2 linked regions of the Homo sapiens genome follow. The protein of the gene in region 1 interacts with the protein of each later gene in a pairwise test. Each region holds a gene or a part of one and is shown in the gene's direction. Other genes may lie near its edges.

Evidence for each region.
Region 2: the proteins of HCN2 (region 1) and KCNE2 interact in a two-hybrid assay, tested with the Homo sapiens proteins (one study listed by BioGRID).

Annotation. Positions count from the first base shown.
Region 1 is NC_000019.10:613,595-617,659, forward strand, and holds the end of HCN2 (potassium/sodium hyperpolarization-activated cyclic nucleotide-gated channel 2), read left to right. Parts: intron 1-257; coding exon 258-422; intron 423-2,200; coding exon 2,201-2,880; 3' UTR 2,881-3,565; downstream 3,566-4,065. Other genes in the region: POLRMT (DNA-directed RNA polymerase, mitochondrial isoform 1 precursor), read right to left, coding at 3,680-3,729, 3,825-3,886, 3,976-4,061. UniProt on the Homo sapiens protein: Hyperpolarization-activated ion channel that is permeable to sodium and potassium ions. Displays lower selectivity for K(+) over Na(+) ions. Contributes to the native pacemaker currents in heart (If) and in neurons (Ih).
Region 2 is NC_000021.9:34,359,115-34,367,291, forward strand, and holds the start of KCNE2 (potassium voltage-gated channel subfamily E member 2), read left to right. Parts: upstream 1-4,891; 5' UTR 4,892-5,037; intron 5,038-8,177. UniProt on the Homo sapiens protein: Ancillary protein that functions as a regulatory subunit of the voltage-gated potassium (Kv) channel complex composed of pore-forming and potassium-conducting alpha subunits and of regulatory beta subunits.

The DNA of each region.
Region 1 (4,065 bases):
ATGGGGATGGGGCCGGGGATGGGGATGGGGATGGGGATGGGGCCGGGGATGGGGATGGGGATGGGGCCGGGGATGGGGATGGGGCCGGGGATGGGGCCGGGGATGGGGCCGGGGATGGGGCCGGGGCCGGCACCAGGGAGAGCCTGGGTGGGAAGCGCCCACGCTGGCCAAGGTGCAGAGGCCGGGCCGTGTGCCTGGGCGGGGAGGGCCGCGGCGCCCGCCTCGTCCAGCAACCCCCCCCTGCGCGCCACGTGCAGAGATCTGCCTGCTCACCCGGGGCCGCCGCACGGCGAGCGTGCGGGCTGACACCTACTGCCGCCTCTATTCGCTGAGCGTGGACAACTTCAACGAGGTGCTGGAGGAGTACCCCATGATGCGGCGCGCCTTCGAGACGGTGGCCATCGACCGCCTGGACCGCATCGGTGAGCGGGCCGGGGGCGTGGCCGGGGCGGGTGCCCTGGCGGGGGAGGGGCGTGGCCAAGGCATCAGGAGAGTGGCTTGGACAGTGGCAGGGGGAAGGGCGTGGCTGTGGCATCAGGGGCACGGTTGGGGCAGAGACGTGGCCAAGGCATCAGGAGTGTGGCCATGGCAGCAGGGGCGTGGCTGGGGCAGGGGCAGCGGCTGGCCGCTCCTAGGACCCCTTTGGGTCTAGAGGCTGATTTTCTGACCTATTGTCCTACTTCAGCCAGAGGCAGCCTGTTTCCCAAGGGAGGGAATGCACAGGGTGTTTGCGGTTGTGCCGAATGCTCGGTGAGCACCTGCTGTGTGCTGGGGGTGCAGGGGACAGACCCGGGGGCCCACTCAGACTCCCAGGGAGGCTTATGGACTGGTGATGAAATCACACACGACTGGGCTGTGTGCCAGCAGGGCAGGTGGGGCCGGTGGGCTTCCCTGAGTTGGGAATGCAGAGTGGAGACCAGGGTAAGGGATGCCATGTGGAAACGGGGAGGAAGATGTGTTCGTGGAGTGGACACAGCACATCCCAAGGCCCTGAGGTGGAAAAGAGGCCTAGAGTCCAGAGAGCCAGGGAGGCCTGGAGGAGGTTGGGGAAGAAGGGGAGGCCAGACACACAGGGCCCAGTGGGCGGCAGGGAGAGTTTAGACTAAATCAGGAGCATCAGGGAGCCATGGAGGGTTCTAGGTGGGCGGAGGACCTGGTCAGATTGTATCCGCCAAGGCGGGCCGTGTCCAGGAGGGAGACGGTGACCTGGCCTCTCAGGGGGGCAGTCTCTGGGGCAGGGAGGGGCAGAGCCCTGATGACTGGATGTAGGCGCCAGAGAGATGGCGGCTCATGCTGCTGTTCGTGGGAATGGGAATGAAGACCATGGCTGAAACGCAGGACAGGTGCGACGGAGTGGTGTCAGGGAGCTCCCTGGTGTACAGTAGGAAGCTCTCCACAACTTGCTCTATACAGTGAGTATGCAACCCGTTCCTGAGTATCAGGTGCTTAGGTTATAACTTCTGTATACAGCAGGTGCTCAGCACAGGCTGTGTACAGGCAGGTGTTTTCGGTATGCCTGTGGCACACTGGAGGCAGTCATTACATAATCAGCGTATACAGGTGGTACACATGCATACTTGGTGCACAGTGATACCTGCTCCATGTACACAGCAGGCATTAAATACCTGTTTACTGCCAGGCGCGGTGGCTCACGCCTGTAGTCCCAGCACTTTCGGAGGCCAAGGTGGGTGGATCACGAGGTCAGGAGATTGAGACCATCCTGGCTAACATGGTGAAACCCCGTCTCTACTAAAAAAAAAATACAAAAAATTAGCCGGGTGTGGTGGCGGGCGCCTGTAGTCCCAGCTACTCGGGAGGATGAGGCAGGAGAATGGTGTGAACCCGGGAGGTGGACCTTGCAGTGGGCCGAGATCGCGCCACTGCACTCCAGCCCGGGCGACAGAGCAAGACTCCGTCTCAGAAACAAAGCAAAACAAAAGCCCTGCTTTCTGTATGCAGGTGCTTCATGCATGCTGGCTGTGCATAGCAGGTGCTCAGCCTGTATATGGCAGGTACTCAATATCCATACTATAGGCCAGAGATGCTACATATGTGCTTATTGTATACAGTAGGTGGTAAATGCATGCTTGCTCTACACGGCAAGCACTGTGTGCGCACCCGCGGTGCAGAGTAGGTGCTCGGTGCCCGCTGTACGCAGCAGGCGCTCCCTGTGCACACGCTAACGCCCCCTCTCCCGCAGGCAAGAAGAATTCCATCCTCCTGCACAAGGTGCAGCATGACCTCAACTCGGGCGTATTCAACAACCAGGAGAACGCCATCATCCAGGAGATCGTCAAGTACGACCGCGAGATGGTGCAGCAGGCCGAGCTGGGTCAGCGCGTGGGCCTCTTCCCGCCGCCGCCGCCGCCGCCGCAGGTCACCTCGGCCATCGCCACGCTGCAGCAGGCGGCGGCCATGAGCTTCTGCCCGCAGGTGGCGCGGCCGCTCGTGGGGCCGCTGGCGCTCGGCTCGCCGCGCCTCGTGCGCCGCCCGCCCCCGGGGCCCGCACCTGCCGCCGCCTCACCCGGGCCCCCGCCCCCCGCCAGCCCCCCGGGCGCGCCCGCCAGCCCCCGGGCACCGCGGACCTCGCCCTACGGCGGCCTGCCCGCCGCCCCCCTTGCTGGGCCCGCCCTGCCCGCGCGCCGCCTGAGCCGCGCGTCGCGCCCACTGTCCGCCTCGCAGCCCTCGCTGCCTCACGGCGCCCCCGGCCCCGCGGCCTCCACACGCCCGGCCAGCAGCTCCACACCGCGCTTGGGGCCCACGCCCGCTGCCCGGGCCGCCGCGCCCAGCCCGGACCGCAGGGACTCGGCCTCACCCGGCGCCGCCGGCGGCCTGGACCCCCAGGACTCCGCGCGCTCGCGCCTCTCGTCCAACTTGTGACCCTCGCCGACCGCCCCGCGGGCCCAGGCGGGCCGGGGGCGGGGCCGTCATCCAGACCAAAGCCATGCCATTGCGCTGCCCCGGCCGCCAGTCCGCCCAGAAGCCATAGACGAGACGTAGGTAGCCGTAGTTGGACGGACGGGCAGGGCCGGCGGGGCAGCCCCCTCCGCGCCCCCGGCCGTCCCCCCTCATCGCCCCGCGCCCACCCCCATCGCCCCTGCCCCCGGCGGCGGCCTCGCGTGCGAGGGGGCTCCCTTCACCTCGGTGCCTCAGTTCCCCCAGCTGTAAGACAGGGACGGGGCGGCCCAGTGGCTGAGAGGAGCCGGCTGTGGAGCCCCGCCCGCCCCCCACCCTCTAGGTGGCCCCCGTCCGAGGAGGATCGTTTTCTAAGTGCAATACTTGGCCCGCCGGCTTCCCGCTGCCCCCATCGCGCTCACGCAATAACCGGCCCGGCCCCCGTCCGCGCGCGTCCCCCGGTGACCTCGGGGAGCAGCACCCCGCCTCCCTCCAGCACTGGCACCGAGAGGCAGGCCTGGCTGCGCAGGGCGCGGGGGGGAGGCTGGGGTCCCGCCGCCGTGATGAATGTACTGACGAGCCGAGGCAGCAGTGCCCCCACCGTGGCCCCCCACGCCCCATTAACCCCCACACCCCCATTCCGCGCAATAAACGACAGCATTGGCGCCAAGCCTGGCCGCGTGTGATTGCCCGAGACCCGCAGGGCGTGCACCCTTCCTGAAGACAGTGGCTCCTGGGGGTGGCAAAAGAGCTTTATTTACACACTGACAAGGCTCACGGGGTGTCAGCTGAAGAAGTAGGTGGAACGCTTCACCTGCTCCAGGTCGAAGGCCCCTGCGGAGGAAGCAGAGCGGACGGCGTGGGTGGCGGGAAAGCCCCGCCCTGGCCCGCAGTTCGAGCCACCCTTGCGAGGCTGCCCACCCGCCTACCTGGCTTGGGCACCGCCTGCAGTGTCTCCTTCAGCTGGCTGGCCTCCAAGATCTTCTGGGGCCTGGGGTTGGAAGCAGGGTGGGGTGAGGCTGAGGCCAGGTTTTGGGGTGGGGGGGGAATCCAGGTAGTTGGGGTCAGGGAGCGCCTTACTCAGAGCAGAACCGCTTGACCAGGAATCTGGACAGGTCCTGCAGGATGGGCTCGCTGTGCAAGCGGACAAACTGCTCCCGGCACACCTGG
Region 2 (8,177 bases), on another chromosome or scaffold:
TATGCTGCTGGTAAATCCATCCACTAAATTGATACATTTAAAAAATAGATTTCTGCGGAGATTCTATTTATTCTTGGGCTGACTCTGGAAATTTATATTTTTCTGGCAAATTATATATTTCATCCAAAACTTCAAATTGTATTTCCAGAGTGACTTTTTATTTAGTTGATTCTATTTTTATTTGTTTTCTCTTTTGTTCCTTTCTGTTTTTGTTCTAAAGTTTCATTTATTCTACATTTTTAGTTTATTTTTTGGTTCTTTTGCTTTTTGAGTTTAATGAGTTCCTATTATTTTCCTTTTATTTATTTTTATTTTTTAGAGACAGGGTTTCACTCTATCACCCAGACTGGAGTGCAGTGGCACCATAATAGCTCAGTCTAACCTAGAACTCCTGGGCTCAAGCCTCTTCCCACCTCAGCCTCCTGAGTAGCTAGGGCTACAGCTATGCACCACCATTCCCAGATAATTTTAAACAATTTCTTTTTTATAGAGATAGAGTCTCAGTGTCTCACTATGTCACCCAAGCTGTTCTCAAACTCCTGGCCTCAAGTGATCCTCCTGCCTCAGCCTCCCAAAGCAGTGGGATTACAGGTATAAGCCACCATGCCCAGCCTCTTTTCCTTTTAGTGAATTCATTTACTGTATAAATTTGCCTCTAAGGTTCACATTGTCTGCATCCCAGAAGTTTTCAAATATATGGCAGTTCCTTTGTAATTTAATATCTTATTATTTATGTGTTTTCCTCTTTATCCATATGTTACGTGATGATATACTTATTTTTTGGTTTTCAGATATATCAAGGTGTACAGACTATATTTTTGCTGATTTATAATTCAACTGCATTGTAGTAATGGAACCCAGTCTACATAAAGCTGATATTTAAAAATTTGGTTGGACTTCTTTTGTGACCCAGCACATGGTGAGTTTTTAAAACCGTTTTATGGACACTTATAAAGAATGCACATCATTTGTTGGTTAGGTGTGGGTTCTCTCCATCTATTTTATAAAGGTAATTAATTCTATTACTCAATTCTATATGTTTACTTTTTAAAAAAATCTATCAGTTTCTGAAACCTAATTCCTACCATTGTGCATGCCTCAATTTCTTGTAAATCTGCCTGTTTCACTTTGAATATTTTGAGTCCATATACAAGCCCATGATTTTACTATCTTCTTCGCAGGTTGTTTCTTTTATCAAATTGTAGTGACATTTAATATCCTATGGATCACCTGAAATTTCAGTTTTTCTTAGATGTCTGCATTTTAGCCTTAGCTTGATATGTTTTTTCATCACCTTATTTTCAACTTTTTATTTGTTTTTATTTTAGATGTGCATCTTTATTTTGTATTTTATTTTTTGAGACAGAGTCTTGCTGTTTCACCCAGGCTGGAGTGTAGCAGCGTGATCTTGGCTCACTGCAACCTCTGCCTCCCAGGTTCAAGTGATTCTTATGCCTCAGCCTCCCAAGTAGCTGGGATTACAGGCATATGCCACCATGCCTGGCTGATTTTTATATTTTTAGTAGAGATGAGGTTTCGCCATGTTGGCCAGGGTGGTCTCGAACTCTTGGGTTCAAGTGATCCGCCCGTCTCGCCCTCCCGAAGTGCTGGGATTACAGGTGTGAGCCACCAGCCCCAGCCTAGATGTTTATCTTTTAAGAAGCATATAGCTAGATTTTATTTTGTTATTCAGTTTAATAATACTTCTTTTAATAGGTACTTATTTTAAAGGATATTGTGATTATAGATATATTCAGATATTATCTTAGTCATTGGGGCAGTTATAGTAAAAATTATAAACTGGATGACTTATAAATAACAAAAAGTTATTGCTCATAGTTTGGAGGCTGGCAGGTCCAAGACCAAGGCACTGGCAGATGCGGTGTCTGGTGAGGTCTCCCTCTTTGATTCATAGACCGTGCCTTCTAGCTGCGACCTCACATGGTGGAAAGGGGAAGGCAACCTCCCTGTAGCCTCTTTTAAAAGGGCATTAATCGCATTCACGGGGTCTCCATCCTCTTGGCCTAACCACCTCCCAAAAGCCCTACCTTTTAGTAATATCACATGGGGAGTTAGAATTTCACTATATGAATTTTGGGGGGACACAAACATTTATGCCACAGCAGATATCTTTCTACCACCTTATTTGGTGATTTCTGGGTTTTGTTTGTTTGTTTAAGACAGAGTCTCGCTCTGTCGGCCAGGCTGGAGTGCAGTGGCACCATCTCGGCTCAATGCAACCTTCGCCTCCCCGGTTCAAGCGATTCTCCTGCCTCAGCCTCCCAAGTAGCTGGGATTACGGACGTGTGCCACCACGCCTGGCTAATTTTTGTATTTTTAGTAGAGACTGGGTTTCACCATTTTGGCCAGGCTGGTCCCGAACTGCTGAGTTCAGGTGATCCACCCGCCTCGGCCTCCCAAAGTTCTGGGATTACAGGCGTGAGCCACCATGTCCGGCTGGTGATTTCTGTTTAAAAGTTTTTTCTTAAAGTGTTTTTTCCCACCTAGTTTTTCATTGAATGGGTAAAACATTCTACATTTGCTTTTATTAAAACAAGAAATGAATTTTGCTGCATTTCAATTTATAGATTTTACTATCCTACCTCGTGCCAGGTTCTGTGCTAAGTGCTGTATATATCTGTGATCACATTTAACTTTTATAACAAGCCAAATGAGCAGGAACTCTTATCTCTATCTTACAGACGAAGAATCCAAAGACCAGGGACAGTAAGTAATTTGCTCACCTGGTTTGCCAGCCTCCATGACACATCGCCGTCCAGTTCTGCCTTTAATTACCAAAGCACAACACGCTGCTTTGATTCCCCTCTCCTCGGCGCCAGAATTCAAGAGTGAAGTTAAACCGCAAGGGCTGAGTTAGAAGATTGGCCTCAGTTCCCTGTTCCCACCAGCAGGTGGCACCGTCTCCTAGCGGAATTCTTACTTGAACGTTTTGCTTCCATTTCTGCAGAGGCATGGTGAACACAGTTACACCACCAAAGTGTTCCTCCTGGCTGAGTTTGCCTATCTTGTTCAGTGAAGACAACCCATGAGGACAAATGGTGTTAATGAGAAGCTTTTGCGGAGTTACAGAGATCCTCGTATTTCTTTAAAATACACCTAATAACGTTAACTCTGCAATAATTTGTAGATCATGTTAAATCTTAGCTATCTTCCTCTTGCCACCCAGTGTGCTTCAAGCCACATGGTTCAGAGCACCATTTAATGTGAAACTCCAATTTTAAAACAAAGTGAACCTTCCTTTTACAAAACCATGAGACAAGTTACAGAGTAATGACCACCCACATGACCTTGAAGTGATTTTGAGTGAGTGAGTGTAACTTCCGTGGCTGCCATTTAAATTGGATTCAAATCCAAATGGCTCCACCTCCATGTCATCAGACCTCTTGTGCCCTGATTCCCTTGGCTAAGTTCACAGTACCTTCCACATCAGGTTGTGGCAATGATTACCTGAGGTTAATACGATAAAAGCACATGGTAAGCACTCCTAAATGATAGCCAATATAAAGACTCAGTTCTCCCAATTCCAAGGGTCCCCACCATGATAGAAAAGGATCTTTTGGTAAATAGAGTATGTTTAGCTCTTGCTAGGTCTTTAAATACTTTGCTGGGGGCCAGGCACCATGGCTCACACCTGTAATCCCACCGCCTTAGGAGACTGAGGCTGGAGGATCCTTTGCGGCCAAGAGTTTGAGACCAGCCTGGGCAACACAGCAAGACCCTATTTCTACAAAAATAAAAATAAAAATTAACCAGGCTTTGTACACACTTGTAGTCCCATTACTTGGGAGGCTGAGGCAGGAGGATCCCTCAAGCCCAAGAGTTCAAAGCTGTAGTGAGCTATGATTGCGCCACTGCACTCCAGCCTGGGTGACAGAGTAAGACTCTGTTTCAAAACAACAACAACAAACAAAAACCTCAAAACCTCTTTGTTGGACTTAACTTCCAGCTCCTCCATGTAGTACCTTAGTACCCTTGCAGCCCGTTTCTCTTTTACAAGACAACAATGTTGTTATAAACTCATTTGGATGTGGTCCCGTGGAGGAGTATTTACCAGAATCTAGCTTATTTAGCGTCTTCAGAACACGGCACTTGCCTGGAATTATACTGACCCCCTCAACCCATACCAACCACCCAGAGATGGCTGTTCTTGGCTCCTCTCCCTGGGGCCCTGTCCTTCCCACATCGTCTTCTTCTTCTTTCTTCTTCTTTCTTCTTCCTTCTTCTTCCTTCTTCTTCCTTCTTCTTCCTTCTTCTTCCTTCTTCCTCTTCCTCTTCCTCTTCTTCTTTCTTCTTTCATTGAGACAGAGTCTCACTCTGTCACCCAGCCTGGAGTGCCGTGGTATGATTTCAGCTCACTGTAACTTCTGCCTTGTGGATTCAAGTGATTCTCCTGCCTCAGCCTCCAGAGTAGCAGGGACTACAGGTGTGTGCCACCACACCTGGCTAATTTTTACATTTTTAAGTAGAGACGGGGTTTCACCATGTTGGCAAGGCTGGTCTTGAACTCCTGATCTCAGGTGATCTGCCCGCCTCAGCCTCCCAAAGTGCTGGGATTACAGGCGTGAGCCACCCCACCCAGCCCTTCCCACGTATTCTGGCAGGGAATGCTGTTGTCCCCCAAGCCTACCCTAAGAGGAAGACTTCTTCTGGGGAAAGATGTTCACTGTACCCAGGCCCTGCCCTGGCTGGAGCTGGCAGGAAGGGTCCCAGAGCAGGAACTTGTGCCACTCTGCCCAAAGCCAGAGTCCCTGAGGCACACACCCCATCAGGCACCAAGGTGAATTCCAACTGCCAGTTAGTATTTAACTTTCCACATACGATTAGATTAAACATGTGGGTTCATAAAAGCATAGGATTGCAGACTGCAGTTGCAAGGGCTTAGATGGTTGTAAGGTGAAGGTGCCCAGCAGGCTGAGGCTTGTGTGCAACCCAGAAGAGAGCTCGCTAACGCCAGCAAGAAGGTTCAGAACAGCCTGGCTTTGGAAAGGAATTTCATCCTGCCCACACACTGCATAGGTAAGTCTTAGCACACATTCTTTATTTTTTGAGGAATTAAGTAACAAAGTTATCTATGTGCCTTTTCCAGAAAATGATAAAAGGAATGATTTTCCTGGTACATGGCCTGGCTCCTCATCCACTCTTCCTTCTTTCCTTCTTGTGTTTTCCTTACTCATTTCTTTGTTAATTGCCTTAGAATGAAAATTTTGAGAGTTTTTAAAATGGAGGATTCATGGTAAACGTAGGTAATCATATTGTTTTCTCTTCTTGATATAAAAATGAAAGACTTTGCTGCCTTTTATAGGCCCAGGTGATGTGAGCGATCTACCATGTTTCAAGAAAAGAAAACTTTGGGGCTGGGCGCGGTGGCTCACGCCTGTAATCCCAGCACTTTGAGAGGCTGAGGCAGGCGGATCACCTGAGGTCAGGAGATCGAGACCAGCCTGGCCAACATAGTGAAACCCCATCTCTACTAAAAATACAAAAAAAATTAGCCTGGCGTGGTGGCTGGCGCCTGTAGTCCCAGCTACTCAGGAAGCTGAGGCAGGAGAACGGCATGAACCCGGGAGGTGGAGCTTGCAGTGAGCCGAGATCACGCCACTGCACTCCAGCCTGGGCGACAGAGTGAGACTCCATCTCAAAAAAAAAAAAAAGAAAGAAAAGAAAACTCTGGACTTTGGGGTCAAATGAGTGTTACTTTCCTAATAGTGTCCTGATTGCTGTTGTCATGAATAACACACATTCATGACAGGAATGGCTGGAATTAGGGGATCATTCTGTAGCCTGGAGACAGGGCACAACTAATGACATGTGTAAGCTCAAATCATGGTCTTGATCTTATGTCTTGTACCCAGTTGAGCCAACTGGTCACAGCAATGAAAACAGTGAGTTATTGGAATGTGTGACCTCTGCTAGGACAGTCAGTGCTGGACACTGGCTTGGGTGATGTGAGTTCTAGTCCAGGCACTGTGGCCAACTTGAGAGGCTTGTGATCTTGGACAGGTGACTTAAGCCCTCTAGGCTATAGTTATTCCACCTATCAGAGAGCAAACCAGCCTAAATGATCTCCAGGGGCCCAGCCTGTGCTAGGACTCAGCAAGAAGCATTCACTGGAAATGTAGGTCCTCCTAGGTTGATACACATGAATTGCCCATATTTGACCATTTCTAACCTATATAAATGGCTATTTCATATAATTCCAGAGAACATAAATGGTAGTTGTCTTAGCATTACTAAAGTAAATGCCTATTATGATATTCTACTTAGGGGTAGGATAAGTATGTATACCAAATATGGTTTGTTTCGATTTGATTTTTGAGACAGGGTCTCACTGTCACTGCTGAGTGCAGTGGTGTGATCATGGCTTACTGCAGCCTTGACCTCCCAGGTTCAAGCTATCCTCCCACCTCAGCCTCCTGAGTAGCTGGGACTATAGGAGTGTGCCATCACATCCAGCTATTTTTTTATGTTTTGTAGAGGTGGTGTCTCGCTATGTTGTCCAGGCTGATCTCGAACTCCTGGGTTCAAGCGATCCTCCCACCTCGGCCTCCCGAAGTGCTGGGATTACAGGTGTGAACCACTGTGCCTGGCCTCCAAATATGGTTGATGTCTATCAGTCAGTTAAACAGTAATTCTGGGAATAAAAAATTGAAATCAACCCACTTATAATTGGAATGTCTTAGCATAATGTCCTTCAACGAAGCTGCTTTCACACACTGTGATTTGTTTTTTTCCTGTGGTCATGGAGCAGGCATGGGCCACTCGGCCACATCTCATGCATCCGTATTCAAAAGCCAAATCCCTTTTGGATCCTGTTTATTTGGCCTGGCCACGGGTGAGCACTTAGACATTTAATCCCTATAGGCCCTTTCATCCCTGTGATTAAGTCTTATCAAAAAGCACCTCCTGACCGGCTTAGCAGTGGGGCCTTTGTTCACATTAGAAGGGTTGAACAAATAATGGGCAGTTGGGGCTGCTTAGCTCTAAAAGGCTGGTGAACGCTGCCATGCCTGCACCTGGAAACAAACCCAAATGACTCCAGTGGAATTCAGCACTGAAGTCCCTCATCTCAAAGACCTTTTGTGGCAGAGACTCTTGGATGGGCCTTAGGGGTCCCAGGAGTCCCCTGAAATTGAATGTAGAGCTTCCTACGTGCATAGGTATACTTTCTTGGGGAAAAATTAAGTCACATCATTTTATTTTACTTTTCGAGGGATCTTTAACACCGCCCCTCCCCCACCCCCAATTCCCACACCCCTTAAGAATAAATTAAGAATCACTGTTCTGGTAGTTTCCAGTTGAATTCCACAGAGGAACTGTCATTCATTCACACCTTCATTCAACAGATTTTTAGTAAAGATTTGCTACGTACCCATCGCTGTGTAGGGTCCCGGGATTCAGAGATGAGTAAAGCAATCCCTGCCTTCCGGGGGCTCAAGCTCTCCTGTCATCGGGACTCAGTTACTGAATCTCACTAAACATCCTGAAGGTAGGAGTTTATAGAGTGGTTTTGAGGATCACATGAATAAGCACACAATACATGGGTAATTCAAAAACGAAAACAAGGCCGGGCACGGTGGCTCACGCCTGTAATCCCAGCACTTTGGGAGGCCAAGGTGGGCGGATCACGAGGTCAGGAGATCGAGACCATCCTGGCTAACATGGTGAAACCCCGTCTGTACTAAAAATACAAAAAATTAGCCGGGCTTCGTGGCGGGTGCCTGTAGACCCAGCTACTCAGGAGGCTGAGGCAGGAGAATGGCGTAAACCCGGGAGGCAGAGCTTGCAGTAAGCCGAGATCGCGCCACTGCACTCCAGCCTGGGCAAAAGAGACTCCATCTCAAAAAAAAAAAAAAAAAAAAAAAAAAAGGAAAAAAACAAAACTAACATGGTCATTTGCAGAAGGGGCAGAAAAAGGGTCTCTGCCTAGACCTGGGGAGGTCAGGGAAAGTACTATGGATTGGTAACAACCGGCTGGGCTTCCTACAAGAGAAAAAGACTATACTCACAGAGCCAGACCCCATCTCAAAAAAAAAAAAAAAAAAAAGTCTGGCATGGTGGCTCAAACCTGTAATCCCAGCACCTTGGGAGGCTGAAGCAGGGGGATCACTTGAGCCTAGGAGTTTAACAACATAGTGAGACCTCATCACTACTTTTTT